4 separate regions of the Homo sapiens genome follow, and all the other regions are linked to region 1. The links come from fine-mapping of genetic effects on gene expression. A gene starts in region 1. Each other region holds a variant in brackets. All regions are shown on one strand. Distances are from middle to middle.

What was found.
Region 2: its variant is fine-mapped to the expression of PGD in whole blood (TOPMed, PIP above 0.99).
Region 3: its variant is fine-mapped to the expression of PGD in whole blood (TOPMed, PIP above 0.99).
Region 4: its variant is fine-mapped to the expression of PGD in CD4 T cells (BLUEPRINT, PIP 0.95).

Annotation. Positions count from the first base shown.
Region 1 is chr1:10,396,879-10,401,039 of GRCh38, forward strand. PGD (phosphogluconate dehydrogenase) reads left to right here and starts at 2,186. Exons shown (of 13, transcript NM_002631.4): 1 at 2,186-2,247; 2 at 2,751-2,826; 3 at 3,515-3,694. The coding sequence starts at 2,240. RefSeq lists an enhancer at 1,574-1,883 and silencers at 2,364-2,683, 2,776-2,952.
Region 2 is chr1:10,493,884-10,498,044 of GRCh38, forward strand. PEX14 (peroxisomal biogenesis factor 14) reads left to right here. Exons shown (of 9, transcript NM_004565.3): 2 at 1,391-1,438. Among named protein-coding and RNA genes, the nearest start is that of PEX14, 21 kb to the left of the region's middle. RefSeq lists a silencer at 789-1,083 and an enhancer at 1,546-1,605. The variant C/T (reference allele first, on the strand shown) is at 2,446.
Region 3 is chr1:10,336,884-10,341,044 of GRCh38, forward strand. KIF1B (kinesin family member 1B) reads left to right here. Exons shown (of 49, transcript NM_001365951.3): 30 at 191-320; 31 at 488-650; 32 at 2,886-2,976. Among named protein-coding and RNA genes, the nearest start is that of PGD, 60 kb to the right of the region's middle. The variant G/A (reference allele first, on the strand shown) is at 2,067.
Region 4 is chr1:10,066,652-10,070,812 of GRCh38, forward strand. All of the region lies in intron 1 of UBE4B (ubiquitination factor E4B), which reads left to right. Among named protein-coding and RNA genes, the nearest start is that of UBE4B, 36 kb to the left of the region's middle. The variant CTTTTCTTTTTTCT/C (reference allele first, on the strand shown) is at 1,686.

The DNA.
Region 1 (4,161 bases):
CGTGCCACTGCACTCTAGCTTGGGCTACAGAGTGAGACTCCATCTCACACACACACACACAAAAGAAATGAAAACAACAATTTGTACATGAGTTCAAAACAGAATTATTTATTTCCCAAACTAGAAACAATCCAAATGTCTATCAACAGATAAATGGATAAGCAAATGATGACACAATTGCATTAATGGAATACCACTCAGCAATGAAAAGGAACAAACCACTCATACCTACAACACAGATGAGCCTCAGAAACGTGATGCTAAGTGAAAGAAGCCAGACCAAAAAAATTATATGCTATTATTCCATTTCTATGAAATTTCTGGAAAAGGCAAAAACCATGCAAAGTAGATCAGAGGTTGGCTGGGGGTGAGAGCAGAGACTGACTACAAATAGGCCCAAGGGAACGTTTTGGGGTGATGGAAGTTTTCTATAAGTGGATTATGGTGATGGCTACACAACAGTATAAATTAAAGGTCATCCAAATGTGTACTTACAATGTTTGAATTGTATGACATGTAAATTATCTCATTAAATCTGTATTTTAAAAAAAGAACTGTGCTGTGAAGTTTGACATATTTTAAAGTAGGATGTCTTAGCCGGGCATGGTGTTGCATGCCTGTAGTCCTAGCTACTCAGGAAGTTGAGGCTAGAAGATTGCTCGACCTCAGGAGTTCAAGGCTGCAGTAAGCTATGGTCATGCCACTGCACTCCAGCCTGGGCAACAGAGCAAAGACCTGGTCTTTATAAAAATTAAAAACCGGCCGGGCACAGTGGCTCACACCTCTAATCCCAGAACTTTGGGAGGCTGAGGTGGGTGGATCACTTGAGGTTAGGAGTTCGAGACCAGCCTGGCCAACATGGTGAAACCCTGTCTCTACTAAAAATAAAAACATTAGCTGGGCATGGTGGCACACACCTGTAGTCCCAGCTACTTGGGAGGCTGAGGCAGGAGAATCGCTTGAACCTGGGAGGTGGAGGTTGCAGTGAGCCCAGATCGCGCCACTGCCCTCCAGCCTGGAGACACAGCCAGACTCCATCTCAACAATGACATCAAAAAAAGGCCGGGCACGGTGGCTCACGCCGGTAATCTCAGCACTTTGGGAGGCCAAGGCGGGCGGATCACGAGGTCAGGAGTTTGAGACCAGCCTGGCCAAGATGGTGAAACCCCATCTCTACTAAAAATACAAAAATTAGCTGGGCGTGGTGGCGGGCGCCTGTAATCCCAGCTACTTGGGAGGCTGAGGCAGGAAAATTGCTTGAACCCGGGAGGCGGAAGGTGCAGTGAGCTGAGATCACACCACTGCATTCCAGCCCGGGCGACAGTGCGAGACTCCGTCTCAAAAAAAACAAAAAAAATCTAAAACTCAAACTTCTGAATAACAATTTCCTCCTAGCAAGAAGGGACTCAGTAAGATAAGAAGCGCTGCTTGGCTACTTTGCAAATGTCTGGCTTAAGATGGCTGGTTTTTTGTATCTGCCTCTGCATTTAACCTGGTCCATCTCGCGGGTCACATAGCCTCTACAAAATGAGAAGGGGTTCAATACCGTTAACTCCGGGCCTGGGTAAAAGACTCAAGTCCTGACCCCATCATACTCCAACCAATACATACCCCGCCTGCGCTGTCTGCGCCTGGGTCTCTTCAACCGCAGTGAGCGGTCGCACGGCTCCACATCAGGGTCGCCCTGAGGCTCAGCCTTCCCCGGCCCCATTCCGAGTGCGCACAGGACTGAACGAGCACGCCCGGTCCCTGCTCCGGAGCGGAGGACACGACGCGGACCCGCACGGTGCACCGCAGTGACCTGAGGAAGGAGCGACGGGCGCTCGCGCCAAAGGCGTCCGAGTGCCTGGTAAACTGTAAAGCGCGGTCCTGCGTGAGTTGCTATGGCTACAGCTGCGCCAGGCGGACGGCCTGCAGGACCGAGGTGCAGCTGGGACGAGCGGAAAGCTCTGCGCGTGGGCGGGGAGCCCGGAGCCTCGCCGGGGCAATGTCATCTAGGTGCTCGGCGCTCCACTGATCCGGCCCCCGGGGGTGGGCGGGCACGTTTGCCTCGGATGGTCTAACAGGCGTCGGGGAGAGCCAATGGTGTGGCTTCATGGCTCCACCCCCTTCCATTCGATTGGCCGGCGCCGAAAAGCCGGGCGTGAGCGGCCGCAGTTTCTGGAGGGAGCCGCTGCGGGTCTTTCCCTCACTCGTCCTCCGCGCGTCGCCGCTCTTCGGTTCTGCTCTGTCCGCCGCCATGGCCCAGTGAGTGACTCGCCAGGGGCAGCCCGGCTCGGCCTCAGCGGGCGGGGAACTCTTTGGGGGTCGAGATCTCCCTCGTTCTCTCCGACGCCTCCCACCCTGGGGGTCGCCTGAGCTCACTTGGGGCTCTGTGACCCTGGCCCTACGGCGTCTCGGGCCCAGAGCTCCTTCCCTGCGGGCCCGGCCCCCTGCCCTCTCGGCCGCGCAGGCATGGGGCGGGGCGGGTCCCTTCGAGGGCCAGGGAGGAGGCGCGGCCAGGCCTCGCCGAGTCTGCAGGGACACCTGCGGGACGCGTGCCAGCGGGAGCCGGGCGCGAGGGCGGGGCTGGGGGCCGCCTGCCCGGCCGAGGCTCTGCAGCGTGCGCGCCCGGCTTCTGGGGGCCCGCGGGAGGCGCGGAGGAAAGTGCAGACTCCCAGTCACGGCCAAATGTGGAAGGACCGGACCCCTGGGTTGCAGCGCGTCGAGCGGTGCTGACTCTTTCCTTTGTTCTGTTTCTGCCTCTCTAGAGCTGACATCGCGCTGATCGGATTGGCCGTCATGGGCCAGAACTTAATTCTGAACATGAATGACCACGGCTTTGTGGTAAGCGGCGTGGGCGCGTTGTCTTCTCTCTGGTTCCCGGGCGCTTTAGCCGAGGCCGGCGATAGGTTTGGGAGCTTACGGGTCTCCTGGCCGTGCTTTGCTAATGTGCTCTGTTGCTGCTCGTGGCATTTTTGTATGGAAAGGAGAAGCACCCTGTAGGCGTGGGCGGGCCGATCCCGAACTTAGTCCTGCGGAGTGTGCCTGTGGGTCCGTGAGGTTCACAGCCCGAATGAACGAATTAGTGTCTTAAGTAGAGAAGAAGGGTGCGGGAGGAGAACCCTTGCTGGCTGTGTAGAGCTCTAACTTGATTGCCTGATGAGATCTGGGGAGAGTGAAAATGTTTCTTCTAAATGTTAAAGTGGCTTAGACGCCAGGATGATCAATAACAACAGATAGAGCCTGTTGAACCGGCCAGTTCCTGGATTTGATTTTGAGTCCTAACACGTTGGGTGTGGATTCTACCTGACACACCGGGGGTAGTTGGCCTTCGCCTCGGTTGTCCGCCGTTTTCATCCTACTGAGGTGACATAACTTTACAGTGAGCCTCCCACAGCTGGGGGAAGAAAAGGCAAAGGCAGGTCTGACCTCCCCAGAACTTGGGTTGAATGGAAAGGTCATTGTTACTTTGGCCACAGTCTGAAAGTCTTGTGTGTCCTGGATCTCCTACTCAGGACTTTTGTCCTTCTAGGTCTGTGCTTTTAATAGGACTGTCTCCAAAGTTGATGATTTCTTGGCCAATGAGGCAAAGGGAACCAAAGTGGTGGGTGCCCAGTCCCTGAAAGAGATGGTCTCCAAGCTGAAGAAGCCCCGGCGGATCATCCTCCTGGTGAAGGCTGGGCAAGCTGTGGATGATTTCATCGAGAAATTGGTGAGGCCAGCTGTGCTCTCAGCTGCTACCACGATAGCAGCTGTTTTTGGTTTCTTCCTTTAGTTCTCCTTCTTTTAACTCTAGAGATTTTTTTTTTTCAATTTCTGCTAAGCTCTGACCAAATGATTGCTTAACTGTTGCAGTGTTGGTTAACTTGATAAGCGCTTATGAAGTAACTTTGTCCTTTGGTGGTAGTAATTCTGAGAATACTAACAGACATTTCAATAAACATTAAGGCGGGGCACAGTGGCTCAGGCCTGTAATCCCAGCACTTTTTGGGAGGCTGGTTCAGATGGATCGTTTGAGCCCAGGAGTTCGAGACCAGCCTGGGCAACATGGCGAAACCCTGTCTCTACATAAAATTAAAAAATTAGCTGGGTATGGTGGTGTAAGCTTATGGTCCCAGCTACAAGCTTATGGTCCCAGGTTCGAGACCAGCCTGGCCAACATGGTGAAACCCCGTCTCT
Region 2 (4,161 bases), 97 kb after region 1:
AGAGGACTGTGAGTCTGCTCCAGGGCAGCTTAACTCCAAGAAGAGGCAGGAAGGCAGTCGGATGTGTATCTCAGAGGGGTGTGGGCTGGAGCTCTAAAGGTTTGAAGTTACCAATGCCTGGAGCTTTGGGAGGACAGGAGGCAGGGAGGCAGGGGAAGCTTGCTCACATTCCCTGAGACGGACCCTCACTTTCTAGATCGTTTCCTGCTGGCTGACCTCTTGTCCTGGGGTGGTGAGGCTCTTGGGACAGGACTTCGGATGGAGGGATAGAGGCCTTCACCCAGCAGAGTGCTTGCCACTGTGCTGTGTGCCAGCTAATGTGGTAGTAGCTGGGCATGAGGAATTTTTGGGAACCCTCTGCAGACCGGGCCTCTGTCCTTTTCCAAGGCGGCCTGGCACTTCCATCTGATCTGTAATAGCCGGGAGAATGGAGGCTGCAGGCTGTCTCCTGGGACACACAGATTTTGCTGCACTTGTCTGGATATTAACTGTAGATAGATGGCAATTGGCCTGACCATCAGTCACAGTAAACTAATCATAGCTCACTTAGCAGCATACCTGCTTACTTTATTCTTTTGGAGATTTGTAAATTTCTTCAGAATCTGTCTCTACCTCTGCCTCTCCCTTTCTCTAAATTTTGGCCAGATCAGTCAAGGGTCGAAGGCGCCTGTGAGGGTGAGGTAGTGGCCCCAAGGAAGAGGAAACGGGCTAGAGCCAGGGCCTCGGCCACAGTGCTGCCTGCTCGCCTGGAGGTTGGTCTGCTTATATGCCAGCCTGTCACTAGCTTATTTCCAAGAAGGATTTAAGCCTGGGGCTTTCTTTACTATTGTGGGGTGGTGTCCTTAGTGGCAGGTGATGAATAGGAACCTGTGTAGTTTACTGGCTTCTGGGCTCCAGAAACTAGATGCCCAGAGAAAATCCTGAGCGTGGGCAGCTGGGGCCCCCTGGTGGTGGAATCTGGTTCTCCACTGCTGCGCGACTTTTCTTCCCAGTCCCCTGACGTTGGGGAGGTGGCAGAAAGAGGAGGTGTTGTGCTCTCTCTTCAGGCCTTTTCTCTGGACTCTACTCTTCCCGTGGATTTTGGGATGGTCCCCAGCCCTTGCTGCTCAGTAGGTGATCGTGGGCCTTCCTGAGCAGAACCAAGCCTTGTTCTTGGAGTGGTGTGACAAGTGAACCCAGAAACAGTCTTCATCTTCCCTGGTGAATTCAGACTCTTTGGGCTACTTTTTACAGGTAGTCCACTGCAAAATACTCTTGTGTCGTGAAAAACCAGTGAGAGATGTGAGAAAGAGGTGCCAGCGTGCATCGTTTGAGAACGGAACATCTTTGGTTTTTTGATGTCCATTGGGTGGCACTGTGATCTTATTTTTGTTTCCATTTTTCTCTGCAGCCAAGCTCTACTCCAGGAAGTGAAAATGTGCTGCCTCGAGAGCCGCTGGTAAGTACCCAAGATATGTGGTATCACTTTCTAGTAATTAAAATGCCACGCGAGTGAAAAGAAACCTTCTGTTCCTATGGTTCTGCGTCAGTAGTGTCCCTTTAAAAGTAGCTGTTACCTAGAGACTGCCTCTGTCAGTGACCTCTGACTTCTCTTCTCGCGTGTGGGGACGAGTGAGATCTCTCCTTAGTAAAGGCTGGTCCTTTCTAGGACTAAAAGCATCCACCCCAGATGGTCCTGCACCACTTTGTTTGTGGCTGATCAATAGTAATTAGTGAGATTCCTGCGCCCGTGGGAGGCTGAGGTGGAGTGAGGTGGCTGGGCTTCTAGATTGTTTGAAGTAGCCGCCCTCTGCTCTGCCCCTCAGGGTGCGAGCGCCTCAGTGGTCTTTAAAGAACAGGTAAGCGATGGAATTCTGGTTTTGCCTGGTCAGTAATTGTGTGATTGTCATTCCCAACGCTGTCTTCTTAGACTATGGATAGGGAAGAGGCCTATTAAGCACTGCAGGTAATTTTCTCTCCCAAGTGCTTTTCATTTGGTGGCCAGAGTCCCAGGCTGCCCACCCCATTTTCATTCTTTTTTGCTTTTCAGGGCCTGCTGTAAGTCCTCTTGGCTGGGTAGTAAGACTGGCTCTGTATAAACCAGATAAGTTTGATGGGAGAGCCAGCTCTAGGTTTAACTTTTCAGAGCTTTTTCTTCCTGCGTAGCGATAGCAGGCGTAGGGCTGTACTGCCAAGGCTTTGTTTCAGCAGGGCCTGTGGTTTCACCTGTTCTGCTTCACTCCCCTTCTGGCAGTCGCGGGAGGAGATGACGTGAGGGACTTAGCGGGTATGAACACGTCTGAATTCCAGTGTGTACGAAGGCTTTCCCAGGCTGAGGGCGAGTTGGATCCAGTTGAGCTGTCTGTAGAAAGGCCGAGGTGATACAAGCACTGCTGGGACTGTTTCAGGGGAGCAGTGTTGTCATTCATGTCACCTGCTGTTACGTCACCAGTTACGGGCTTATAT[C/T]CCAGCACTCCCACGGTGGCCTCGTTTCACTCTTTTGGTATTGCCCAGTTCCTTCCTTGAGGTCATGGTGGTGGGAAAGCCCAGGAGGCCCCACCTTGCTAGTCTCTCCGGACGTCTGCCTGCTTCCCTGGGGCCTGCCTCAGTGCCCCTCAGGCCGAAGTTGTGGTTGTTTTAGACTGAAGTGCAGATTGAACACCATAGGCCGCTGCAGTCCTTTCCTTCCTCTCTCTTTTCAAATTTTGATGTACCCATTTAACTGGTCATCGGAGGAGTGGCCAGTCCATCTTTTGGGGCTTGATTCGACAAGCTCTTTGGGAGCCCTGAGCAGTTGGCCAGCTCACTGATTTCTGGTATTTGGAGCCCTGCAGACCCCTTGCTCTGCTAGTGTTTCTGTGCCCTGCTCTTCCTGCTGTACTGTGCATCTGCTTGTTGGTTGGTTGTATTTTTATTTCTTTCTTTTCTGGGAGGCCCTGAGCAGTCTTCAAACCCTAGTAGCCTGTGATCGTCCAGAGTTCAGACTCATTCTCTCCAGGCCAACTCCACAATTACCTTATATTTAATTAATATTTTTTCTCCTCTTTACGTACTTGCTGCATAATTGCTCAGAGGAAAGAAAACACATAGCGGCAATTTATATATATATATAAAATAATAATTAAAAAAACCCCCGAAATAAACTCCCATCTCATTTGGGCTGATCCTATGAGTTGGGTAATTAGGGCCCTATTAAAAGGTAGACCCTTTCTCCTTCCCCCACTTTTTTGTTTATTAAATTTTTTATATTAAACTCCCACAGTCTCTCAGTCATGCCCTTATTGCTTTTGGCCAAGCATTTGCAGCAGCCTGATTAAACGGGGGCACCAGCTGAGTCGCGTGGTCTTGTGTGAACTGCTTCTTCCTCCTGGGAGTGGTGTTGGGAGGGTGTCAGGCAGAGGAGCCCGCTGAGGACTCGTGTGGCAGGGCGGGGGCACAAGATGGGCAGCCCCCTTGCACAGAAAGCCCCACAGCTCAGTGTGGTGGTGTTGCGGTTTGTGAAAACACACAGCAGTCAGCCCTTCCACAGGGAGGGAGCTTTCTCAGGCCATGTGTATTTGCTGTCTCCTGCATGCTCAGCTTAGCTCAGCTCAGGCCTGAGGATGGGGAACAGACAATTGAGGAATAAAACTAAACCTTGTTCTTGAGTAATTCACGTGTTTTACTTTGGGAAGAAAAGGCATTTATACATATGAAATAAGAGCAAACTGCACACGACTGTATGTAATTTTAGCAAATAGCACAACATTGTGTATCATTTGGTGCAGAGCTGCCTGGTTGGGCGTAGAAGAGAGCCCCAAGTTATTCAGAGCAGGAAGAGCTCTGCGGAGGGCGAGGGCCACTTAGGGATGGCTTTTGGGAAACTTGAAGCCAGGCCTTGAGGAATGGGATATTTCAGTGTTGGGGGAACACACTGCTAAGTTGTTTTGTTTTTGTGTTTATTATTGTTAATTTTTTCATTTAAGCTTCGGGAAATACATATTCTTTTTGTTTTTAACTGAATGCATATTTTTCATACAATTCCTTAATGGAAGTTGCCTGGTCTCTACACTAAAGGCAAATAATCTTATTCTTTGTCCCAGACTAGATGATCACTTTGAAATAATTTTTCCCCTTATTAAAAAAGTAAGTTACTGGCCAGGTGCAGTGGCTCATGCCTATCATCCCAGCACTTTGGGAGGC
Region 3 (4,161 bases), 60 kb before region 1:
CAATTATGAAGGTAAAGGTGTATAGACTCAATATTCATATTTTATTCATTGCCTTTCCTCAGACAGCCCTCAGTCCATATAATTTTCCAGTCACTATTATTTGTTGGACAGATAAACAGAAGTAAGGCAACTGGGGAAAAATACGTTTTTATACTACTTTACCATGTATCTGCCCCTGCCTTTTTTTCAGAGTGACTTTTCGTCTGTTGCAATGACTCGTTCTGGTCTGTCCTTGGAGGAGTTGAGGATTGTGGAAGGACAGGGTCAGAGTTCTGAGGTCATCACTCCTCCAGAAGAAATCAGTCGAATTAATGACTTGGGTATGTAGACATAGTTTACTGTGCTTGGGGACATTTTCGACAAAGGGAAAATATTGACCATTATCAAGGGACATAGTGGCCTTCATCAACTAGGAATGGAAAGCATGCCCAACTCCCTCCTCTTTGCATTATTTGAACCATCTGTGTCTTCATTTGACCCTCTTTAGATTTGAAGTCAAGCACTTTGCTGGATGGTAAGATGGTAATGGAAGGGTTTTCTGAAGAGATTGGCAACCACCTGAAACTGGGCAGTGCCTTCACTTTCCGAGTAACAGTGTTGCAGGCCAGTGGAATCCTCCCAGAGTATGCAGATATCTTCTGTCAGTTCAAGTAAGCTGCCCCTTTGCTCTGCCTCCCAGCTAGCTGCTAACCGAGGTGACATCTCTTGTGCACTGTAGAGTGCTTTACATGTGTGAGGGATTAACACTCTTGAGACAAAGACTGATCAGTCTCTGAAGGAAAATACTTTCATCACTCCTATGGGAGTGAGAACCAGAAACCTGTCCTGGAATGCAACAGGGTTCCCTGGCAGGAGGAGCATGCTGCACATCCTGCTGCAGGGCTCTGCTGTGAGCGGTCCCCCTTTACCAGGAATGTAGGGTCTGATCACATAAGCCTGTTGATGAGTCTTTCTAGTCCTCTTCATGTTGAAATGTCTTATTAATAAGCCTGAAAGCAATGACTTATCTAGCTAGCAATTACGCCTATTTAATACTCGGGAAAAGGAAAATTTAAACAATGTAAAGAAGGATAAATTCTACATCAACTGAAAAAAGCTAGTATGTAGGGAAGATGTGATACCTCTCATTTCTCATCTACATAGGACTTGCTCTTTCCCGCGGCCCTCTCAAACCCTGTGCTCTGGATGCTTTCTTCTCAAGACTGCCCCAGGAAAACATTTTTTTGTGAATCTTCAGTTTTAATACCTCCAAACTTCAATTTGTCTTTTCAGTACTTGGAAAGGGCCACAGTACAAGAGACTGAAGTGTGACCCCTCCATACCTACCGCCCTCAGTTTGCCACTGGTGCCACCAAGAGGCTGCTTTGGGTTCTGCCATCCCTCTCCCCTCAGAATGTGCCTTGGCCGTCCCATGGGTCCTAGTGCAGTTTATAAAGCTTTTGTATAGGTTTTATCACAGAAAATTGAGTCAAATGTGATTTAAATTAAATGTGATCACTATATAGTAAGCCACTAATATCATTTGCTACAAGTCATAGTTGTTGGAATATTACCCATTGAGCATTGATTTCACCTATTTAATGTGTTTTCACTCATACCCTCAAACTTAGGGCAGGATAGTGTTCACCAGATGAATCTGTTTTTTGGAACTGTTGCTATTATTCTAATCAGGCAACTGATACGTTTTATGGAAAACATCTATTTGGTTAACTGATGTCTGAAGTGACAATAATAGTGAGTTGACCTTTGTCCTACAATCTCCTAAAAAGAGCAGCATCTCTACCTGGTGTTAGCTCTGGGGAAAAGGGCATGTTGCTTCTGTTGAAAGCAGCCTCAAAGGCGTCCTGTGTTTTTATAGTCGCTCCTCTGGCCTGTGCCGGGAAGGTATGGCTGCAGAGCACTGTGAATGAGTTCACCTGTCGTCAGGGAACCCCAGGAATGCTGCGGTGCCAGCAATACAGGAATCAGGGATTTGGAGCACTTGGCAAAAGCATGCTAGTGTTCTCAGACGGGTGAACTAATTTGGAAGACAACAAGTTCATATTACCAGTCTGTCTGTCCCCCCA[G/A]TTGAAAATAGTTTCTTTTTCTCCATTTTTTCTTGATGGAAGGGGTGTCCTTCTGATGGATTTTTCTATCTGGCAGTAAATCTTTGTGTTGGGTCCTCTTTAACTGTGCAGTTCTTTTTATTTCAGACTAATAATAGGGAGAGAGAGAGAGAGAACGATAACATCTCACTATCTGTGAAAATAACTAAATATAGCCCATTGTTTTAACAAATCTTTCCAGAGTATCTTCTGTGTGTCGAGACCTGTGGGAAAACGCTTGCTGTCTGGGGGAGAGAGGCATATAAATACATTATTACAGTGAAATCATTGCTATTAAGGAAAAAAACATTACTAGTAATGTGGGAACACAAAGCTGCCAGGGTAAGTCAGGAAAGACTGCCTGGAAGAGGTGACATTTGAATCCACAACAGACTCTTATGTAACTATGCCATCCACAGGCTCTCGCACTAACTGTGGAAGCTTGAGTCTGCTAAATTTTGTCTGTACAAAATGACATTGTTTTTATTTTTAGTAAAAAGCTTTTACAAAGGAAGAGGAGTTAATTGAATGTACTTCTTCACTCTCTCTAAAGCATTCTTGCATATACCTCCATATAGCTAAGTGATCAGGGTCAGTTAATTTTTCAGTCATTTTTGAAATAAAATCTAAAATGCCCTCTGTGCAATATGGAAAAGGTTCTTGACAAGGAAAGTAAATAACTTAAAGAATCTGCTTAAGTGGAATGCTTCTTTCTGTAGGATCCACATTGGGCTCTTGAAAGAGATTCTGATAAAACCGTTTAATGCATTGTTCACGAGTCTTTTTATTTTTTTTATGAAGCTTTTTGCATCGCCATGATGAAGCATTCTCCACGGAGCCCCTCAAAAACAATGGCAGAGGAAGTCCCCTGGCCTTTTATCATGTGCAGAATGTAAGTGACATGGACCTTTTTGCCAAACATATGTTTTTCTGGTACCTTGGCTTTCTCAGCCCGGGAAGGGTGATAAGAAGAGGTACAAGTCACTGGCTGTGCAGGGGGAGAGTAGACAATAGAGGGCGTGGCTAGAGTGGTGAGGTCATCCACAGCGGCCTGAGCAGCAAGCCTTCTTGTCTGTGTTACAGTGGGCCTAGTGAATGTGGGTTCGTCTGCCAATAAAATCTTCCATCAGTTTGAATGCAATGAGTTGTTTTAGTGTTTCTGTCCTAGAAAAATAAGCATGCTTAATAAGAGTTTTATTAAAGTGAATGCATTGTCCTTTAAACCCTAAGATACTTATGTTGCTCGATTGCAAATAACATAAAAAATATCAAATACCTTCTGTAGCTAAATTAAGATTTAGATCTGTTTTCCTTGCAACTGATAGTATAATTAACACATTAATGCCCTTTACAACTGTATTCCTACGTGGAGTAAGAAAACAGACCCTTCCCTCTCTTACGTGAAATTTCATTCAAACTCTATTCCAAAGTCATTATCCTCATCACAATAGCTAATATTCACTGAGAGTTTATTTTGTGTTAGTCACTGTTCTGAGAGTTTTTGTGTAATTTAATCTTTACCTTTATACCATAGATTAAGATAATCCCTGTGTTAGCTGAGATGACTGAAGCATAGAGCAATTAAAGTCACTCATCAGGCTGGGCGCAGTGGCTCATACCTGTCCCGGCACTCTGGGAGGCCGAGGCAGGTGGATCACTTGAGGTCAGGAGTTTGTGACCAGCCTGGCCAACATGGTGAAATCCCATCTGAGACACGAGAATTGCTTGAACCCAGGATGGGGGGGTTGCAGTGAGTTGAGATTGTGCCACTGCACTCCAGCCTGGGCAAGAAAGCGAGACTCCCATCTCAAAAAAAATAAAAAAGTAATAATAAAAATAAAGTTACTCATCAGTGTTACAAGAGGCAGAGATAGGACTTAAGCTCAGAGAAATTTAGCTCTGGTATTCAGGATATTCACTACTACATGAAACTGTCTCTCATTCTCTTGCTAACCATGTCTGCTCTCTAAAGTAAGAGAGGAAAGGAGAACTTCAAAGATGGAACAAGCAAACACAAAATATGCCATCTTCTTTTTCATGTTGGTATAAATATAAGCAAGCATGTATCTGATAAACT
Region 4 (4,161 bases), 330 kb before region 1:
TCCCAGCACTTTGGGAGGCTGAGGCAGGTAGATAACCTGAGGTCAGGAGTTTGAGACCAGCCTGACCAACAAGGTGAAACCTCGACTCTACTAAAAATACAAAAATTAGCCAGGCATTTTGGCAGGCGCCTGTAGTCCCAGCTACTCGGGAGGCTGAGACAGGAGAATGGCATGAACCCGGGAGGCAGAGGTTGCAGTGAGCCAAGATCACGCTACCGCACTCCAACCTGGGTGACAGAGCAAGACTCCGTCTCAAAAAAAAACCAAAACAGAACTAGGAGTTATTGTCATCTTTCCAAGGAGACTACCCCAAAGAGAAAGTATTTCCAATTATTTTTCTTTATATTGGAATTCACTTTTTTTTAAAGTAGAAAAGTAAGACACTTTTGTAGAATGACTGTTTATTAAACTTATAACAGTGTTTTGTGGGTGTTTTTCCCCACAAACTGCTAAAAATAAGAGGAACAGTTTGGCCCATCCTGTCTTAGCTTCTGCCTGCAATCACAATGGCCTTCACTGTTTTGAATCTATTTTTAGTTCATCAGGAACGTGAGGGTGGGAAGTGCTGCGTCATATAACAGATTAGGAGAAAGCCCTATTTTAATGTCGTTTGTGAAATAAGAACTGAAACAGACAAGAAAAACTCTAGGAATGAGATTTCATGATTAGTATGTGTGGCTTTGAGTTGTGGTTTAGGACACAAATTGAGGAATTGGAAGTTCTTTATACTTTTTTTTTTCTCTGTGAGATAGGGGAAAACAAAATTCTCTTAAAAAAGGACTTTTGTTTAACTTAAAGGAGATTATGCCAGTCCTTTGGGTTAATGTTAAAAAAGTCAAGTAAACAATGAGAAAAATGTTTAATCATATTTTGGTGTGTTGTGACTATTTTTTGGTGTGTATCTCATATGTTCTGTTTGTGATAAAAAGTGAGGTTGCATCTCTTAGTAGTCAAATTAATTAGATACACTTTTTTTTTTTTTTGAGACCCGGCTCTCACCGGGTTGCACAGACTGGATTTTATGGCTCTCTGCAGCCTTGACCTTCCCAGACTCAGGTGATCCTCCCATCTCAGTATTTGTTGTTGTTGTTGTTGAGATGGAGTCTCACTCTATGGCCCAGGCTGGAGTGCAATGGCGTGATCTCAGCTCACTGCAAGCTCCGCCTCCTGGGTTCACGCCATTCTCCTGCCTCAGCTTCCCGAGTAGCTTGGACTACAGGTGGCCACCACCATGCCTGGCTAATTTTTTTGTATTTTTAGTAGAGACAGGGTTTCACCGTGTTAACCAGGATGGTCTCGATCTCCTGACCTTGTGATCCGCCCACCTCAGCCTCCCAAAGTGCTGGGATTACAGGGGTGAGCCATCATGCCTGGCCAGTTTTTTTTTTTTTTTTTAAGATGGAGTCTTGCTCTGTTGCCCAGGTTGGAGTGCAGTGGCACAATCTTGGCTCACTGCAACCTCCGCCTCCTGGGTTCAAGTGATTCTCCTGCCTCAGCCTCCCAAGTACCTGGGATTACAGGTGCCTACCACCACACCTGGCTAATTTTTGTATTTTTAGTAGAGATGAGGTTTCAGTATGCTGGCCAGGCCGGTCTCAAACTCCTGACATGAAGTGATCCCACCTACCTTGGCCTCCCAAAATGCTGGGATTACGAGCATGAGCCACTGCACCTGGCACAGTTTT[CTTTTCTTTTTTCT/C]TTTTCTTTTTTTTTTTTGAGCAGGAGTCTCGCTCTGTTGCCCAGGCTGGAGTGCAGTGGTGCGATCTCAGCTCACTGTGACCTCCTCCTCCCGGGTTGAAGTGATTCTCCTGCCGCGGCCTCCTCAGTAGCTGGGATTATGGGCGCGTGCCACCATACCTGGCTAATTTTTGGTATTTTTAGTAGAGATGGGGTTTCCCCGTGTTAGTCGGGCTGGTCTCGAACTCCTGACCTCGGGCCATCTGCCTGCCTTGGCCTCCCAAAGTGCTGGGATTACAGGCATGAGCCACTGTGCCCGGCCAGTTTTTGTATTTTTAGTAGAGCCGGTGTTTCTCCATGTTGCCCAGGCTGGAGGTAAACCTTTATACCTGTGATTGCACAAAGCCATTCTCTTGTGAGTCCCCTATCCAGATATTCCCAGGGCCTCAGGTTGCTAAACCAGTTCAAAGTTAACACCAGTGTAGAAGGCATTCAGACCACCCAAGGGCATTATCCTCTACTGAGAGCCCTGCTGTGGGCAGCCCAGAACGCTGCCCCCTGCATGGCTCTTCCTAAATTTTCCAGCGGATCTTTAAGATGGGGCAAAATGTATTCTCCCAATCTTCTCCTACTCCTTCTGTCATGTATGGACCTGCCTCTGTCTCTTAACTCTTTCTTCCTGCTTAATAGTCTGCAACATGCTTCACAAAGTCTTGATTCTTCAACCTTTTTTGAAACCTTAGAATCCTTTCTTTCTTCAACCGCATATTATAGTGAGTCAGAACATTTATTCTCTGTTTATATCACTGAGTAGAACATCTGAATTTAACATCTTGGGCTGAACTTGGCATTGAGGTTTAAGGTGACTTCATATTTTTTCCAACAATAGTGGGTATGCTCTTCCAATGATAATGATAACGTCAACTAATAAATTAGTCAATTTTATGTTCAGTGCATTTTTCTAGTATTTCTCATTTATTCAGCAGATATTTAGAGAGTACCTACCATGTGTCAGACACTGTTCTAGGCACTGGTGCAACGGAAGTTCTTGCTTTTAAGAAACTTCAATTAGGGGGATGGTAACTAAGCAATACACAAATAAATATATCACACATGTCATAGGGCAGATCAGAGCCACGGAGAAAAAATAAGTAGGGAAAGGGACAGGGTGGTGGTTTTCTCACAACCCTGTAAGGAAGATACTGGTTTTTTTCTTATTTTTTTGAGACGGAGTCTCACTTCATCGCCCAGGCTGGAGTGCAGCGGTGCGATATTGGCTCACTGCAACCTCCGCCTCCCAGGTTCAAGCGATTCTCCTGCCTCAGCCTCCCAAGTAGCTGGGATTGCAGGTGTGTGGCACCATGCCTGGCTGATCTTTGTATTTTTAGTAGAGACAGGGTTTTGCCGTGTTGGCCAGGCTGGTCTCGAACTCCAGACCTCAAATGATCCACCGCCTCGGACTCCCCTCGGCCGATGATTTCATCCCCATTGTACAGATGTGCAGTGTACGGATGTCCATTGTGCAGAAACTGAAGCAGAGAGCTGTTAAGTGACTTATCTGGATAGGCTCCAGATAAGTAAAGTAGTCAGTAATAAAGGTTGAATTTGAATTAGAAATCAAGCATGAACTCCTAAATTTAGCTGTCTGTAAGATAATGAAACTTGGCCCGGCATGGTGGCTCACACTTGTAATCCCAGCACTTTGGGGGGCCGAGGTGGAAGGATTGTTTGAGCCCAGGAATTTGAGACCAGCCTGGGCAACATGGTGAGATGCCATGTCTACAAAAAATTAAAAATTAGGTGGGTGTGGTGGTGCATGCCTGTAGTCCCAGCTACTTGGGAGGCTGAGACAGGAGAATCGCATGAACCTGGGAGGGGGAGGTTGCAGTGAGCCGAGATGGTGCCATTGTACTCCAGCCTGGGTGACAAGAGCGAAACTCCGTCTCAGAAAAAAAAAAAAATTACATGCTACACAGAAGACTATATTTAACATATAAACTATGAAGAAGAATAAGATGAATACCCATGAACTGATTACTCATAGTTGTAAGTATACAACCCAGTGAGTTTTCATAAAGTGGACATAGCTGTGACATTAGTATCCAGTTAAAATTAAAAAAAAAAAAAAAAAACCATTACCAGATCCCTAGAATCTCACTCCTGCCTCTCCCGAGCTGCTTCCTGCCCCTTTCCCACCAAGGATAACCATTATCCAAACTAATGGTATAGTTTAGTTTTTCTTATTTTCAAATTTTATAGAAATGGAATCATCCACTCTGTTTTTTTTACATCTGGCTTCTTTTGCTCAGGGGACATGGGTAAATCTGTTAGGAAGCTTTTGGAGATGCCCTGCTGTTAGTAGGAGTTCAACAAACACATTTTGAATGAATGGATTAATTTTTCTCTTTCAATAAGATGTTGCTCTTTAATTATATGTTAAAAGGAAGAAGTGGCAGATTGTATTTTTATTGAATCAAGTAAAAA